Regions from separate parts of the Homo sapiens genome. Here region 2 is linked to region 1. The links come from fine-mapping of genetic effects on gene expression. Tissue or cell type: whole blood. Region 1 holds a variant in brackets; the other region holds the start of a gene. All regions are shown on one strand. Distances are between the middles of the regions.

Evidence for each region. PIP is the estimated chance that this variant, and not a neighbour inherited with it, causes the effect.
Region 2: UBXN2B starts here. The variant in region 1 is fine-mapped to the expression of UBXN2B in whole blood (TOPMed, PIP 0.99).

What each region holds. Positions count from the first base shown.
Region 1 is chr8:58,457,857-58,465,968 of GRCh38, forward strand. No RefSeq gene overlaps it. Among named protein-coding and RNA genes, the nearest start is that of CYP7A1, 38 kb to the right of the region's middle. The variant A/G (reference allele first, on the strand shown) is at 5,072.
Region 2 is chr8:58,407,638-58,415,749 of GRCh38, forward strand. It overlaps UBXN2B (UBX domain protein 2B), which reads left to right and starts at 3,724. Exons shown (of 8, transcript NM_001077619.2): 1 at 3,724-3,832. The coding sequence starts at 3,749. RefSeq lists enhancers at 3,720-3,779, 3,790-3,839, 4,120-4,169.

The DNA.
Region 1 (8,112 bases):
TAATTCCACTTTTTACCACTTTTAATGGTTCACCAAAGCTAAGATTTTACTTAGATAATTGCATTTAAGTATATGCAAAAACATGTTTATTTCCTCATTATTCTTCCTACTGTAAGCAAGTTGGTATTTACTTTTACTAGTTGTAAATATCCCAAAATATTTTTTAAATCTTCATACTATATGTAAATAGGGTAGGGTAGTGGTGGCGGTTTTTTGTTTTATTCATATACTTCTAAATCTCCAACCAACTTTCAATAAACTTTCATAAACTTTCCATAAAGTTTCAAACACTCCATAAACTTTCACTTCCATTCTTCTTGGGTTCTTTTTTCTCATTGTTCTCCATATACTTCTAAATATTACTTTCAAAACTTTCTGACTCACTGGGACCTTTCCTTGGAACATTGAGTTCTCCTGACAGTAACATGTCAGGAGAAGTACCAAGTGTGAATGGAATCTTGCCAGTGGCAAGGCAGAGGTGGGGCACCATCAGCTCTGACAAGGCTTACTAGAGGATTAGAAGAGCAAAGCCCTATAACACAGACAGCTTTCATCAGGAATATCTTTACATATAAGATAACATTAGTATTGGTGCCAATTCAACTGCAAAATAAAATAGTTGTTTATTGATGATTCTCTATTGAGTCCCTTTAAGTGCAATCTGAATGACTTAACTACAAAAATCAGTTTACATTCAACACTTGGGGTCATCTAATTTGTAAATGGAGATGTATCTATAAATACCAACAATGTAAAAGCCTATATAAACATAAATCCTGAAATATCTCTACTATGTCAGCACTTGAGTTTGTGAAGCTCTTCGCTCCTATACAAAATTCATTATTTCAAAAATACAGCTTCCATGAGAACCCTTGGAGATAAGCAGAATAAATCTTATCCCCATTATTTTCATGGGTAAAAGTTAAGTGACGTGAAGAATCACATTGTGAGTAGAGATGAAGTCAGTATCTCCTTATGGGTTGGTATGATTCAGTTTCCATTGTCCTGCAGTTTTGGGTAAAAAACATTGTCCTTATTTCTTAATAGTAATTAGCAGTGTAGGTACAGAGATATTGACATATTCATTTTGTAGATTATTATAAAGGATTAAGTAGTTTTCTAAAGGATATTCAGCAAATATGGTGAGTATGCAGCATATCAAATAGTATTCAGCATATTAAGTAATTTTCTGAAGGCTATTCAGCAAATGTAATTTTTGGCCTCACTGCCAAAAGCATCCTCAGATGAAATGTTAATGTATGAAGATTTGGTAGTTTGGGTTCTGTTTAACTTTCTTGTATGGAGTGTTTTAATGTGTTTTAGTGTTTTGATATATTTTCCTTGAATGTTTGCTGTTTTTGTTTTGTTTTTCAAACCTATCGTAGAAACTTTATTACATCAAAAATGATGTGGCAGAAAAAGCAGAATATTTGAAAGGCACTGGCACTAATTCTATAAGAGTATTATGTTTTTCTTTAACTGGAGATAGGAATATCAAATTCTTTTTTTTTTTACATTGATCTAGTGCAAGAATCTGGTATTCTTATTCAATTGTAAGCCAGAAAAGAGAAGACTACATCAGATATCACTGGTTGGCAGCAATTAGAAATATCAAGAGTACTATTGTTTATTACATTTTCACTTCTTTGACAAAGTGACTTGGATCTGATACAACGACCCAGTCTGTAAGACAAGGAACTGTGTGGTTTCCACCTACTGATAGGTATGTATGGGCGAGGAGCCACGTCAGGTAACAATGAGTGACGAACTATGTTTTTTTCCCCCCCGACATGTCATTATCTGGCAATAAATACTTAAGGTCATAGAGCCTGTTAATCTTTACAAAATCAAGGTGCTACTTGTAGTAAAACAAAATCTTATACAGTAGTTACCTTTTGACAAGTTAACATCAGGTCATCAGGGTATGGGAATTTGGTTACTTGTTCTTGTCTCCACCAGGGGGTGTATAGGTCCTGGGAAAGAATCCATGCCAGTATCTTTCCCTTAGCTGCGTTAATAAAATGAAGGGAGAGGATCAAAGTTACCTGTTCAAATAAGAATTAGAAATTACCCAGACATGAGTATCATGTAGCCATGGTTTCCGTGATCTCCTGCAGTATAGATGAAGAATACTTGGCTGAATATGATTGGCATTTTCAGAAATGTAATATAGCTAATGTCAAAACATAAAAATATTGATGGTGTCAGTGTAGTAGGCCTTGTGTTCTTTTTTTTTTCCCTTTTTCTTTTCTTGAGACGGAGTCTCGCTCTGTCGCCCAGGCTGGAGTGCAGTCGTGCCATCTTGGCTCACTGCAACCTTCGCCTCCCTGGTTCAAGCGATTCTCCTGCCTCAACCTCCTGAATAGCTGGGATTACAGGCATGCGCCACCATGCCTGGCTAATTTTTGTATTTTTAGTAGAGATGGGGTTTCACCATGTTGGTCAGGCTGGTCTCGAACTCCTGACCTCGTGATCCTCCCGCCTCAGCCTCCCAAAGTGCTGGGATTACAGGCGTGAGCCACCGCACCCGGCCGACCTTGGGTTTTTTTTAGGGTCATGTTGCCCATCAGATATTTACCAGATGTCCATCACTTGAGTGTATTGCTCACTGACCATGCTCCCTGGACAGCATTTAAAATGCCCCACTGAGTGCTCCCCTGACTTCTCAATAATGCATTCTTTATTTAAATGCACTACCAGAAAATTTAGTCTTTTTCCTTTTTTTTTTTTAAAAAAAAAAACCTATTCCATATTTCCTTCTGTTTTCCTTGGCTAAATTCTGATTTATCAGATTTTAATTCCTAGCTCTTTTCTACCTTTGCAGTCACAAGGTCTCACAACTTCTACTTTTGTTGGGAACAGGCCCCCCAAAATCTGGCCATAAACTGGCCCCAAAACTGACCATAAACAAAACCTCTGCAGCACTGTGACATGTTCATGATGGCCATGAGACCCATGCTGGAAGGTTGTGAGTTTACCGGAATGAGAGCAAGGAACACCTGGCCCACCCAGGGCAGAAAACCGCTTAAAGGCATTCCTAAGCCACAAACAATAGCATGAGCAATCTGTGCCTTAAGGACATGTTTCCTGCTGCAGATAACTAGCCAGACCCATCCCTTTATTTCAGCCCATCCCTTTGTTTCCCATAAGGAATACTTCTAGTTAATCTATAATCTATAGAAACAATGCTTATCACTGGCTTGCTGTCAATAAATGCGTGGGTAAATCTCTGTCCGAGGCTCTCAGCTCTGAATGCTGTGAGACCCCTGATTTCCCACTCCACACCTCTGTATTTCTGTGTGTGTGTCTCTACTTCCTCTAGCGCCGCTGGGTTAGGGTCTCCCCGACCGAGCTGGTCTTGGCATACTTTGATTTTTACCTTTCCCTCTTGCAAAATGTTGTTGCAACTTTACAATTATCAAGTGTGCTAACAGAGATATAAGTGGCAGAACTGCAAAATGAAAATGGAGAGAATTAGCATAGGAATTAGATGTCCCAAATTTTTAAGCATGCCTCTACCACCAACTCTGCAAGTCCCAACTTTCTCATCTCCAGAATGAGGAGATTAGAACATGGTCCTTCAGGTACAGCCATTATGGAAAACAATATGAACGTTCCTCAAAAGATTGAAAATAGAACTACCATTTGATCCAGAAATCCTACTTCCGCATATCAGTTCTACTTCTGAGTATATGTCCAAAAGAAATAAAATCACTGTCTTGAGAGATGTCTACACTCCCGTGTTCACTGCAACATCATTCACAATCACAAAGGTGTGGAAACAGCCTAAGTGTTCTACAACAGACGAACATATAAAGAAAACATGGTGCATATATACAATGGAATATTACTTATTCTTAAAAAAAATAGAAGGAATTTTCTAGTTTTTCTCTGCCACTTCTGATAACATGGAAAAACCTGAAGGACAATATGCCAAGTGACATAAGCCAGGCACAGAAAGATAAAAAGACAAATATCACATGAGCACTTATATGTGGAATCTAAAAAAAAAAATGCTTAAACTCCTACTAACAGTAGAACGGTGATTACAAAGGGTTGGGGAGTGGGGAAAAAGATTTATTGATCAAGGAATGTGAACTTTCAGTTATAAAATGAGTAAGTCCTGAAGACCTAATATACAGCATGGTGACTAAAGTTAATAATAATATATTGCATACTTGAAATTTGCTAAGACACTAGATTGCTATTGTTCTCACCACATACACAAAAAATATGTGAGTTGATGAAGCTTGATTATGATAATCATTTCACAATGTGTACTGTAATGCCCAACCTTGTTTTTACTAACCCTGTTCTTAGACTCTCCCTTTCCTTTAATCACCTAGCCTTGTTTCCACCTGAATTGACTCTCCCTTAGCTAAGAGAGCCAGACAGACTCCATCTTGGCTCTTTCACTTGCAGCCCCTTCCTCAAGGACTTAACTTGTGCAAGCTGACTCCCAGCACATCCAAGAATGCAATTAATTGATAAGATACTGTGGCAAGCAATATCCGCAGTTCCCAGGAATTCGTCTGATTGATAACGCCCAAAGCCCCACATCTATCACCTTGTAATAGTTTTTGTTTTTGTTTTTGTTTTTTTTTTGAGACGGAGTCTTGCTCTGTCACCCAGGCTGGAGTGCAGTGGCACAATCTCGGCTCACTGCAAGCTCTGCCTCCCGAGTTCACGCCATTCTCCTGCCTCAACCTCCCGAGTGGCTGGGACTACAGGCACCTGCCACCATGCCCAGCTAATTTTTGTATTTTTAGTAGAGATGGGGTTTCACCTTGTTAGCCAGGATGGTCTGGATCTCCTGACCTCGTGATCCGCCTGCCTCGGCCTCCCAAAGTGCTGGGATTACAGGCACCTTGTAATAGTCTTAAAGCCCCTGCACCTGGAACTGTTTACTTTCCTGTAACCATTTATCCTTTTAACTTTTTTGCCTACTTTACTTCTGTAAAATTGTTTTAACTAGATCCCCCCTCCCCTTTCTAAACCAAAGTATAAAAGAAAATCTAGCCCCTTCTTCAGGGCCCAGAGAACTTTGAGCGTTAGCCATCTCTTGGCCGCC[A/G]GCTAAATAAATGGACTCTTAATTCATCTCAAAGTGTGGCGTTTTCTCTAACTCGCTCAGGTACAATACTTGTATCGAAATGTCACATTGTACACTTTAAATATACACAATTGTTGTCAATCATACTTCAGTAAAGCTGGAAAAAAAAGAAACTGTTCCTTTAGTTCTGAATTCTGATATTGTTTCACAAAGTTAAACACTAACCAACAAAGTGCTTAAAGATGTCCTGACATGGTTAAAAATGGAAAAATGATACAAATCAGTGAATAACAGTGAGCAAATCTAGGGAAGTTATAACTTGTGTTGTTTATTGCCTTCCATTTGAGTTAGTTCTCTGGTAAGATAATTTGAGAATTCTTATTGAAAACATTTTCAGTCTAGTAAGATCTATGGACTGGTTTGTAGGGTATAATATTAACAAGTAGGTTAAACTCAGTGAAAATTTTATAGGACCACTACCTTTCCTGGACTTAATGCTTAACAGCTTTTTGAAGAAAGTTTAACTGCACAAGCCTATTCATCAAAAATTATAATAGTTTCATAGAGCACCATTCAGTCACTTAAAAAGGCCTAGTAGACAGGGTGGGGCGTGGTGGCGATGCCTGTAATCCCAGCACTTCGGGAGGCCAAGGCGCAAGGTCAGGAGATCAAGACCATCCTGGCTAACACGGTGAAACTCCGTCTCTACTAAAAATACAAAAAATTAGCCGGGCATGGTGGCGGGCGCCTGTAGTCCCAGCTACTCAGGAGGCTGAGGCAGGAGAATGGCGTGAACCCGGGAGGCAGAGCTTGCAGTGAGCCGAGATCACACCACTGCCCTCTGCACTCCAGTCTGGGCGACAGAGCAAGACTTCTTCTCAAAAAAAAAAAAAAAAAAAAAAAAAGGCCTGGTAGAGTATTTAATAATGTGGGGGAAATTCATGATAAGAACAAAGTCAAGTTAGAAACAGATTTACCTTAAGACTATAGTTTAGTTTTTTTTTAAAAAATATCATTTCAAACCCAAATTTTGATCTCTAGTATCATTGCTCACTAAAAGTAAGCAGGACTCCTTGAAGAAATGGCTGATTTCAGATTTAAGACAGGGAAACACAAGGTGAGCCCACTTTATCTTCTGACCAAAGTAAAGAAGCTTTCAAAGACATGGAGTCATTTCAAAAGGGCACAAAAACCTCGTAGATGGGGTTCCCACTGGACTAATTTGCCACCATTTGAACAACAAGATTGTAGGTAACTGAAACACACTGGGTCTAGGAAAATTCGTTAAGTCCATCATAACTCTCAAATAAGTCATAAAAACCTATTTGTTACCATTTGAGGTGGCCATTAAACCAACATCTTACTTTGAAAATTGGTAAGTAAAGGGAAGTATTACACATTTATTCTGCCTTTCCAGTAAGACCGGTATTTCTGAGTAACTAGTAGCCCTAGTTGACGAGTCAAAGCTGTACTTTACAAAAGAATGCGAGCTAATAAATATAGATGATAATAGATAGAAAGATAAAATTCACCATTTTGCAGCCCTGATGAAAATTACTGACTCAGGCAAGGATTATCAGTTGATGTTAAAATTGTTAGGTGATCAATTGGTGGGGAAGTGAATTTCGTATGTGATTTGCTTAAGGAACATCAAAAAAAAGATCACATTCTTTTCACAAGGGGGAAATCATAAATTTACAATGGCAGAGGCAGGATAAGACTAAAATTGTACAATAGAGAATAAGGCCATCATCATCCCAATTCATTGACCAAACTTAGCACCCCTAATGCTAGAACAACCAGGTATTATCCATCTCCTAATGAATTGCCTATGGTGTATACACATTAACTATGATGCACTTTCAACTAAAACACTTAATTTGAACCCATGGGAACTTTATTTTTTATTTATTTATTTATTTATTTATTTTTTGAGACGGAGGCTCACTCTTCCGCCCAGGCCAGAGTGCAGTGGCGCTATCTCGGCTCACTGCAAGCTCCACCTCCCGGGTTCACGCCATTCTCCTGCCTCAGCCTCCTGAATAGCTGGGACTACAGGCGCTCGCCACTGCGCCCGGCTGATTTTTTGTATTTTTAGTAGAGACGGGGTTTCACCGTGTTAGCCGGGATGGTCTCGATCTCCTGACCTCGTGATCCGCCCGCCTGGGCCTCCCAAAGTGCTGGGATTACAGGAGTGAGCCACCACTGCCGGCCAAACCTATCAAGACTTTAGATGTAACTTTCAGTTTATTGGAAACATATAGAAGAATAAACAGTTGCCACAACGAAACAATTAGACAAATTCAGAAGGTGAAACACTTTACAGAACAGATCAGTGTCATTGAGAAAAAAAAAGAGACTCTTCTACATTGGAGAGGTAAGTAGTGTGGCTTGGACAGGATCCTGGTTTGTATAGACCAGATGTAAATGATATTTGGAAGGTGGTTTGTGAAATATGGACAGGGTATATTTAAAAATTATGATTAATTTTTGTGAATTATGATAATATTTTGGCTATCCAGAAAATGTTTCTTTTAAAATACATACTAAAGTTAAAATGTCTTCAAAAATGTAAATGGTGATGGCATATAGGCTTTGGAGACAGGCCTGGTTTGACACCTGACTTCATTTACCAGCTAGTGACGTTTGGTCAAGGCATTTAAACTCTATGCCTTATTAACTGTCAGGCCTCTGAGCCCGAGCCAAGCCATCATATCCCCTGTGACCTGCACGTATACATCCAGATGGCCTGAAGCAAGTGAAGAATCACAAAACAAGTGAAAATGGCTGGTTCCTGCCTTAACTGATAACATTCCACCATTGTGATTTGTTCCTGCCCCACCTTAACTGAGCGATTAACCTTGTGAAATTCCTTCTCCTGGCTCAGAAGCTCCCCCACTGAGCACCTTGTGACCCCTGCCCCTGCCCACAAGAGAAAAGCCCCCTTTGACTGTAATTTTCCACTACCCACCCAAATCCTATAAAACGGCCCCACACCTATCTCCCTTCCCTAACTCTCTTTTCGGACTCAGCCCACCTGCACCCAGGTGAAATAAACAGCC
Region 2 (8,112 bases), 50 kb before region 1:
TTTAACAAACGTATTAATACATACCTGTGTAACTACCACCACAATCAAGTTATAAAACACTTCTGTCACCTCAAAAAGTTCCTACATGTCCTACAATTGGGGAACTGAATCCTTACTCCAAAAGACAGCCCCAAGCTACCACCAGCTTTTAGTCATTAAAGGTGTTGCCTGTTCTAAAATTTCATATAAATTAAATCAGACAATATTTACTCTTTCGCACCTGGCTTTTTTTACCCAAGATAATATCTTTGAGATTCATTCAAGACATGTGAATCCATAACTTCTTCCTTTTTACTATTGAGTAGTATTCCATTGTATGATTTATCAAAATTGTATCCATTCATTGGCTGATGGACATTTGGATTGTTTCCAGTTTACAGGCTATTACAGATAAAGCTTCTATGAACATTTGAGTTGAAATACTTTATAAATGTATACTTATATCCCTCTTGGGTCAATATTTAAGAGTAGAATTGCTGGTTCTTATGATAATGGAATATTTAACATTAGAAGAAACTGACAACCTCTTTTCCAAAGTGGCTGTACCATTCTAGGACCCACTAGCAGTGTATGAGAGTTCCATGCAGAAAGCCAAGGCAACAGCTACTCGGGAGGCTGAGGTGGGAGGATTGCTCTAACTAGACAGATTGAGGCTGCAGTGAGGCGTGATTGCACCACTGTACTCCAGCCTGGACAACAGAGAGAAACCCTATCTCAAAAAATAAATAAATAAAAATAAAGAGCCTGGGCAAATATAGTCACCTTGTTCGTTTTCCTTCTTTCAGATATCACAGACCTGTACTGCCTGTTGCTCAATGCCTTAAAACTGTTGTTTTTAGTTGTTAAGAGTGGGAGGACAAGTCCAACATCAGGTATACTGTCATGGCCAGCAGCAAAATCCACTTTGCGAACATCTTAAGAAATATGATGCCTGACTCCCACTCTATACCAATTATTAATAAATCTGAGTACCTGGAGACGAGAGAGAAGAGGTGATTCTAATGTACAAGAATGTTAGAGAATCACTGGCTCAGAGGATTCCATCCCCAACCTAAGGCAAGATCCTTCAGAATCTGTCTCAAGCCTCCATTCTACATCTGTCTCCTCCCCACCATTCCATAACCATCTTTTGTCATTTCTAAGTTGCAACCATATAGCAATTTGCTGACATGAATATAATATTTTAAATATCAGTGTCTTTGTAAATATCTTTGCCTTTACCAAGATTCTTTCTGGTCTAATACTTCTACTGGAAGTACTTTCCTTCAACACTCAGCTAAAATGTCTTTGGCTCTATGAGGCATTTCTTGTTAAAGAGCCCGAGATTTCTAGGGCAGAATCTGATGTTAAGAGAGTATCAGGAAAACAAGTGCAGTTTAGTATTTGGCACTGCCATTTACTACAGGGTGAAGTTAGTCTTCATCATCTGGTTTCCTCGGGTATAACAAGATAATCATAACTACCTGGTAGAGGGATAAATGAAATTACACAGGGAATGCACAGCTGGGGGAGAAAATTTTCTCCTTTACTCTCTCAGAGTCTCCAGCTGGGTCCAAGAATTAAACGGACACAAAACAGATTAACAGGGAAAAAGCATACAAATTTTATTTAATAAAACTTTACGTATAAGTGGGTGTCCTCACAGGAAAATAAACACCCGAAGAAGTGGCTAGGCCTAAGTGCTTATATACTAGGTTGAACAAAGAGAGGCAATCGTGGAAGAGTATCTAGGAAGATACTGGTTAGTTTAACAATATCTGTACAGATGTTTCTCGGCCTCAACTCCCCTTCTCTGGTGATGAGTATCTTTCCTCTTGGTATAGGGAGGGCATCTATCACATGGTAGTTTCTTTTCCTGCTTTCAGGAAGAAAAGGTCAGAGTGCTCTTCTTGCACCTGCTGTTTATCAAATGCTTTTTTTTGTTTTTTGTTTTTTGTTTTTAAGACGGAGTCTCTCTGTGACACCCAGGCTGAAGTGCAATGGTGCATCTCTGCTCACTGCAACCTCTGCTTCCCGGGTTCAAGCAATTCACCTGTCTCAGCCTCCCAAGTAGCTGGGACTACAGGCACGCGCCACCACGCCCAGCTAATTTTTGTATTTTTAGTAGAGACAGGATTTCACCACGTTGGCCAGGCTGGTCTGAAACTCCTGACCTCAAGTGATCCGTCTGCCTCGGCCTCCCAAAGAGTTGGGATTACAGGCGTCAGCCACGACGCCCAGCCTCAAATGCCTTTATACATCAAAACGATCAGTATGCCAAAGCTCGGGCGGCAAGCTGTCGACTCCAGCACCTAGCATGGTGCACACAGCAGATACCAACGGAGTATTTCCCCTCACATGGCTCACATTTCCTTTGTAACCCTCCCAAGCAAAGCTCTACTGCAAGCTGCATCTTACCCGTTTACATGTCTCTTTTCCCTACTAGACTGAGTTTCATAATGACTGGGACTATTTCTTTTTACCTTTGCATCCCTTGGGCATAAAAGTGCCTAGGAGGCCAGGCGCAGTGGCTCACGCCTGTAATCCCAGCACTTTGGGAGGCCGAGGTGGGCAGATCATGAGGTCAGGAGATCAAGACCATCCTGGCCAACATGGTGAAACCCCGTCTTTACTAAAAATACAAAAGTTAGCCGGGCATGGCGGCACGCACCTGTAGTCCAAGCTACTCGGGAGGCTGAGGCAGGAGAATTGCTTGAACCCGGGAGGTGGAGGCTGCAGTGAGCCGAGGTCGCGCCACTGCACTCCAGCTTGGGCGACAGAGCGAGGCTCCGTCTCAAAAACAAAAAGTGCCTAGGATAAGAAGACCAGAGTCTAAATCAATTTCAGTTGAATGACGAGGGCTTGATAGTCTCGAGATCTGCTTTTTTTCTTTTTTGAGACGGATCCTCCCTGTGTCGCCAGGCTGGAGTGCAGTGGCGCGATCTCGGCTCACTGCAACCTCCGACTCCCTGATTCAAGCGATTCTCCTGCCTCAGTCTCCCCAGTAGCTCGGACTACAGGCACGCTCCGCCACGCCCAGCTAATTTTTGTGTATATATATATATATATATGTGTATATATATGTATATATATGTGTATATATATATGTGTGTGTATATATGTGTATATATATATGTGTGTGTATATATATATATATATATATATATATATATATTTTTTTTTTTAGTAGAGAAGGGGTTTCACCATGTTGGCCAGGATGGTCTCGATCACCTCGTCCGCCTCGGCCTCCCAAAGTGCTGGGACTACAGGCGTGAGCCACAGGCCCGGCAGAGTTCTGCTTTTAGCAAATTATTCCAAGCACTTTTTACGGTGTTTTTCACTCTCAGTGCTAATTCACGCTGTGGTGACGATGTACCATCCAATCCTTGATAGGAAAGATCAGAGAATCTGACCAAGACTAGATGGAGAGGTTGCAATTTTTCATCAGATGAAAAATCCAGAGGATGTTTTCATTGTTGAGCTAAATGAATCTGCAAGTCTATGCTGCCCTCTAGGGCGGCCTACAGTGCCTTTAGGCGAGTAGCAGGAGCAACACAAAACTTAACAGAGGTTTCCCTGCGGAGAAACTCCCTTTAAGAAAAAAGGAGAAACCAAAAAGGTGGGCCAGCACCGGAAGCGGGGGCGCGGGTTCGGGTAGCGGGGACGCGCACGCACCTTGCGCGTCTTCGCCCCTCCTGCGGTTGCCAGGCAACCGGCCCCGGAAGTTGCGGCAGGTGCGTCCGCAGCGGGCGCCGCTAGCCAGCGGAAGATGGCGGAGGGCGGAGGCCCTGAGCCCGGCGAGCAGGAGAGGAGGTCTTCCGGGCCGCGGCCTCCGAGCGCGCGGGATTTGCAGGTGAGGCGAGGAGCCGGGGGAGGGAGCGCGGCGGTGGACGCGGGCTGGTGACGGCGCGGGCTGGTGCGAGTTGGAGGCCACCTCTGGCCTCGGCGGAGCCTTTCCCCGACCCCGTCTGGGGATAGAATCCGGCGCCCGGTCTCCCGATGTCGGGTCTTGACACTGTGGTGGTCGTGAACACAAGTGCCCAAGCCTCCAGCGCTGGTGCTTTGTCTCCCTTCCACCCCACGTATGATGTAAAAATAGCTATTCGTTTAGAATGACATTTTGCGGGGTCAGTTGGTCGGTTCACGGGTTGATGCTTCCTTCTTGAGACTTACTCCAGAAGAAAGGTTACTGTGGCCGCAGGGAAGTAGACAGTCACCTGAACAGTAATGATACGTGATTTGTTCTTTTTTGTCTTGGATGCTATTTCTGACTTGCTTACTTAAATATAAAAATGGTTCCATTTTATCAGGTAGGTTTTTCTTTTAAAGGGGTGAAGGAAAGCGATGCACTCTATGCCCATACAGCCTAGTTGTCTAAGCTGTGGTCTTTAAAACATTGCACTGAAGAAACTGGGAAATAAAATTTCGTAATGTTGTGTAGGACACTAGTATTAGTTAGCTAAATAGTAGCGCACCAAATCCCGTTTTATCAGATACTAACGCCACTTTTCTCATTTTAGGCGTTTTTGTGTCTCATTATAAGATTATTGATAAAAATTTGACAAGTAAATATCAGTAAGGAGATACTAAGGAGAATCTTGGTAGAACAGTTTTACTGTATTACTTTACAACCACACTTCATTCTAATGTGAACAAACCACCATCCATTGTAACATACTGCTGAGCTTTGCGAATGTGGAAATAAGGACATCAAATCCTTAGTCGGTGCTGAACTCTATTGATGGGTAGGTATGTAAGTGTAAAAGACAGTTCTACCTTTTGGAAGCCTACAGATTTCTTCGGAGAAATAGGGTATGAATACTTAGCATAACATTTTAAGATGGAGTATGATTGGGTGCCAAAATAAGCAGTGCATAAAGCGAAGAATTTGGAGGCTGGAGAGATCAGTGTAACATTAGGAGGTGAACTTAATGTAGAATAGTTCCAGCTCCCATAGTTGGTTCAGTAGTAGTAAACAGTATCAAGGGATAGGAAGCTATTGTGTACCTCATCTTTCCTATTATAAACCCACATCACTAAGAGGCAGCATGGAGTTAGTAGTCCCACCAATTTTGGTTTGCCTCTTAGTCCTGCTACTTAGTAGTTTTGTGAACTTAGGAGAAATGTCTTAACCTGTCTGATCCTGTGTCTTCATTTGTAAACTGAGGAAGGTCAGGGTGCTGGTGGTGGTGTAAGGATTAAATAATGTTATAAAGGGCCTATGCAAAATTCCTACATTATCCTGGCTCAGTTGTTGCTGGGCAAATATTTGATTCCTTTTTCCTCAGGAGAAAGATGCTATAACTTTCCCTGGCTAGTCAATTCTAATATCATTAAAGTTAATAGAGTGTGTAACTTAATGTCCTTTCCCTAATTTAAATCCATTTCTTCTTTTTATGTGAAAAGTGAGAACAGCTTGCTTAATGACCACCTGATTCTTGGCAAATTGTTTGCAGTCTTAATCCAGTGGATCAAAGTACGATTAATGTTTGGAGATACTCTGGTAGATGTTGCTAATTGTGAGAATGCCTTCATTTCCACCCTAAGTTATGATGGGGATTTTTTTTTTCATCTCCTGTCTACTTGTTGTAGGTTAGGGCAGTAGGAAGATAACTGATTTCTTTATGAATGTGATTTGGTGTATCAAGTACAGTATCTAAGTATTGATAATCTTTCCTTTAGAACTTAATATGAATGTGAAGAACTTGCAAAGAAACTTGAAAACAGCCAAAGGGATGGCATATCAAGAAATAAAGTATGTATCAAAAGTTTAAAAGAATTAAATAATGTTCTTCCCAAATGGTACCTTGGATATTGATTATTTATAGATTATCTTGTTACCGTTTAATCTAGACATGCTTTTCTTAAGAGTTACGCAGTTCGTGCAGCTTTCAGTAGATATTTCTTACTTCCCTAACAGCTTGCTCTAAGAGTCTTTCAGAGTGAGTAAAGGGGCAACATATTACCAATTGGAACAAGCAGAATTACCCCTGAGTAAGTGTATCTTAGCTGCCATGCAGTGTAGGGTTTGTCAGCATCTGAATCAGGAGGGAGTGTTCCAGGTACCACCAGAGAAAAGCTGCATAGTTGCTTCCCAAAAGGCCTCCCAGCCCTGGGAGCCCCCAGGTTACAAACTGCAGACTCGGAAATGTTTTTTTGCATATCAGAGTAGATTTTCATAGCTCCCTTCATCCCCCTCAAATAAGGAGATGGTCATGGGGAAAGTTAGGGGTGGGATTGTTAGTGGCAAAACTAAGCCCAAAACCTCACCAGTGTTCAATAGTATTTCTGAATTGCTTTCTCTTCTGGTGTCCCTCAGCCCGCCACACACATGTTCATTAAGGTATTTAGTTGTATACTCTGTCCCAGTTTTCCTCCACATATTATCTGTTTCTACATAGGTTGGACGGGGAGGGAGTGGGAACAGGGATAACTTCAGTATTGTTAGGGTTAGGATTGGATTTGTTAGGATGGACTCAATAGTGGGTACTATAAATGAGAAGAATTAAAATGTCTGATAGCTGTTCTGATAACTGTGTTGCCACAAGTACCCTAATCATATTGAATGTCATTATTCTGTATCGTTGATTCTCTAGTATGCATCTGTGACCTGGAAGGCTTGTCAGAGATTGCTGGGCCCTACCCCAGAGTGTGATTCATTGGTTCTAGAGTAGAGTTTAAGCATATGCATTTCCTAGAAGTTCCCAGGTGTCTGTATAATAATCATTTATTACAGCGTCTAGAATTGGTTACTCTAAGGCTGAGAATTCCAATACTTTTAATATTTTGCTATATACTTTATTTTCTCACCCGATTCCTTTGCTTTCAGGTTTCAAGTTCTTCACATTTCAAATTCTAGAGGAAAGATTATCAATACTTTACTTACATACTTTATCCTCTGCATATTATTGAAACATTTTCTTAATTACGTTTTGAGATTTTTTTGTTGTGTTAGTTTTGACCAGTACTTCAATTAATATTTATCAATTTAAATTATCATTTCCTCTTTTGATGTAATGTCATCTATGTTAAATAATATAAATTAAATTTCTTTGTAGTATTTACTAATGAACTCATGCCATATGATGCCATATGGCATCAACTCCCTCTAAATATTACTCATTTTCTTCTAAGTTTTTAATGATGTACCGTTAATAACTAGGATCTTTCAGCCAGGTAGACTCTTTAATATCATTTTCCTCATATTCCTCTTTTCTTAATGTATGTTCCACATTCCATGGGGCTAGTGGCATTTTTGCTTTTTTAATTTATGTCACCAAAGAAAATTGTTATTTGATTGGAAGCATTTATTCAAATCTTGTTAAAGCAAAAAGTGTTTAACAAATATAACCCCAATTTAAAATACATCTATCTATATCTATTTCTGATTCATTTTCTATTATGTTCTTTATATAATTCAACGTCAATTTGTTGCCTTTTAGGTACAATATTAGAAACAATTTGAGAAACTTAAAATCTAGTTGGGGAAATAAAACAGCAAAAGTACACAAGTAATGACAACATAATGCTTAATATGAATGTCATTGGGGGTATTACGTGCTATGAGTATTTAGAAAAAAAGATATTAAGAAGATTAGAAAAGGTTTTGTGAAGGAGAGCTGAAATGGGCCTTTGAAATACAGATGACATTTTCATTGATGAGAATAGGAATATCATAAAAGTAATTCATAAAGCTGACATAATGAGCTTAGAAGGAAATCCATAAAATAATACTACTTTAAAGAAATTTCAGGGAGGTAAAATTTCTGAAAACTTTAGACCCTAGTCATCAGACTGTGTATGTGCATGTCTGTCTCTCTCTCCTCTATCATTTGTTTGTTTTTTGTTTTGTGTTTTTGGAGGGGATGGAGTAGTAAAGGACCATAAGGAGATATAACACTGTAGGAAGAAAAAAAAATCTTGGGGAAAATGAAACACTGATACAATCATTACTAAACATTTAAGAATAATATCTTCTAGTGATGGAACACATGCTTTGTGCTTTCCATACATTATTTAATCCTTCAAATGACTACGGTGATTTTTTATAGGCATTTGAAGATGTGGTAACTAAGGCTCAGAGAAATTAAATAATTTGCCCAAGATCACACAGGAAGTGCCTAAGTTACGATT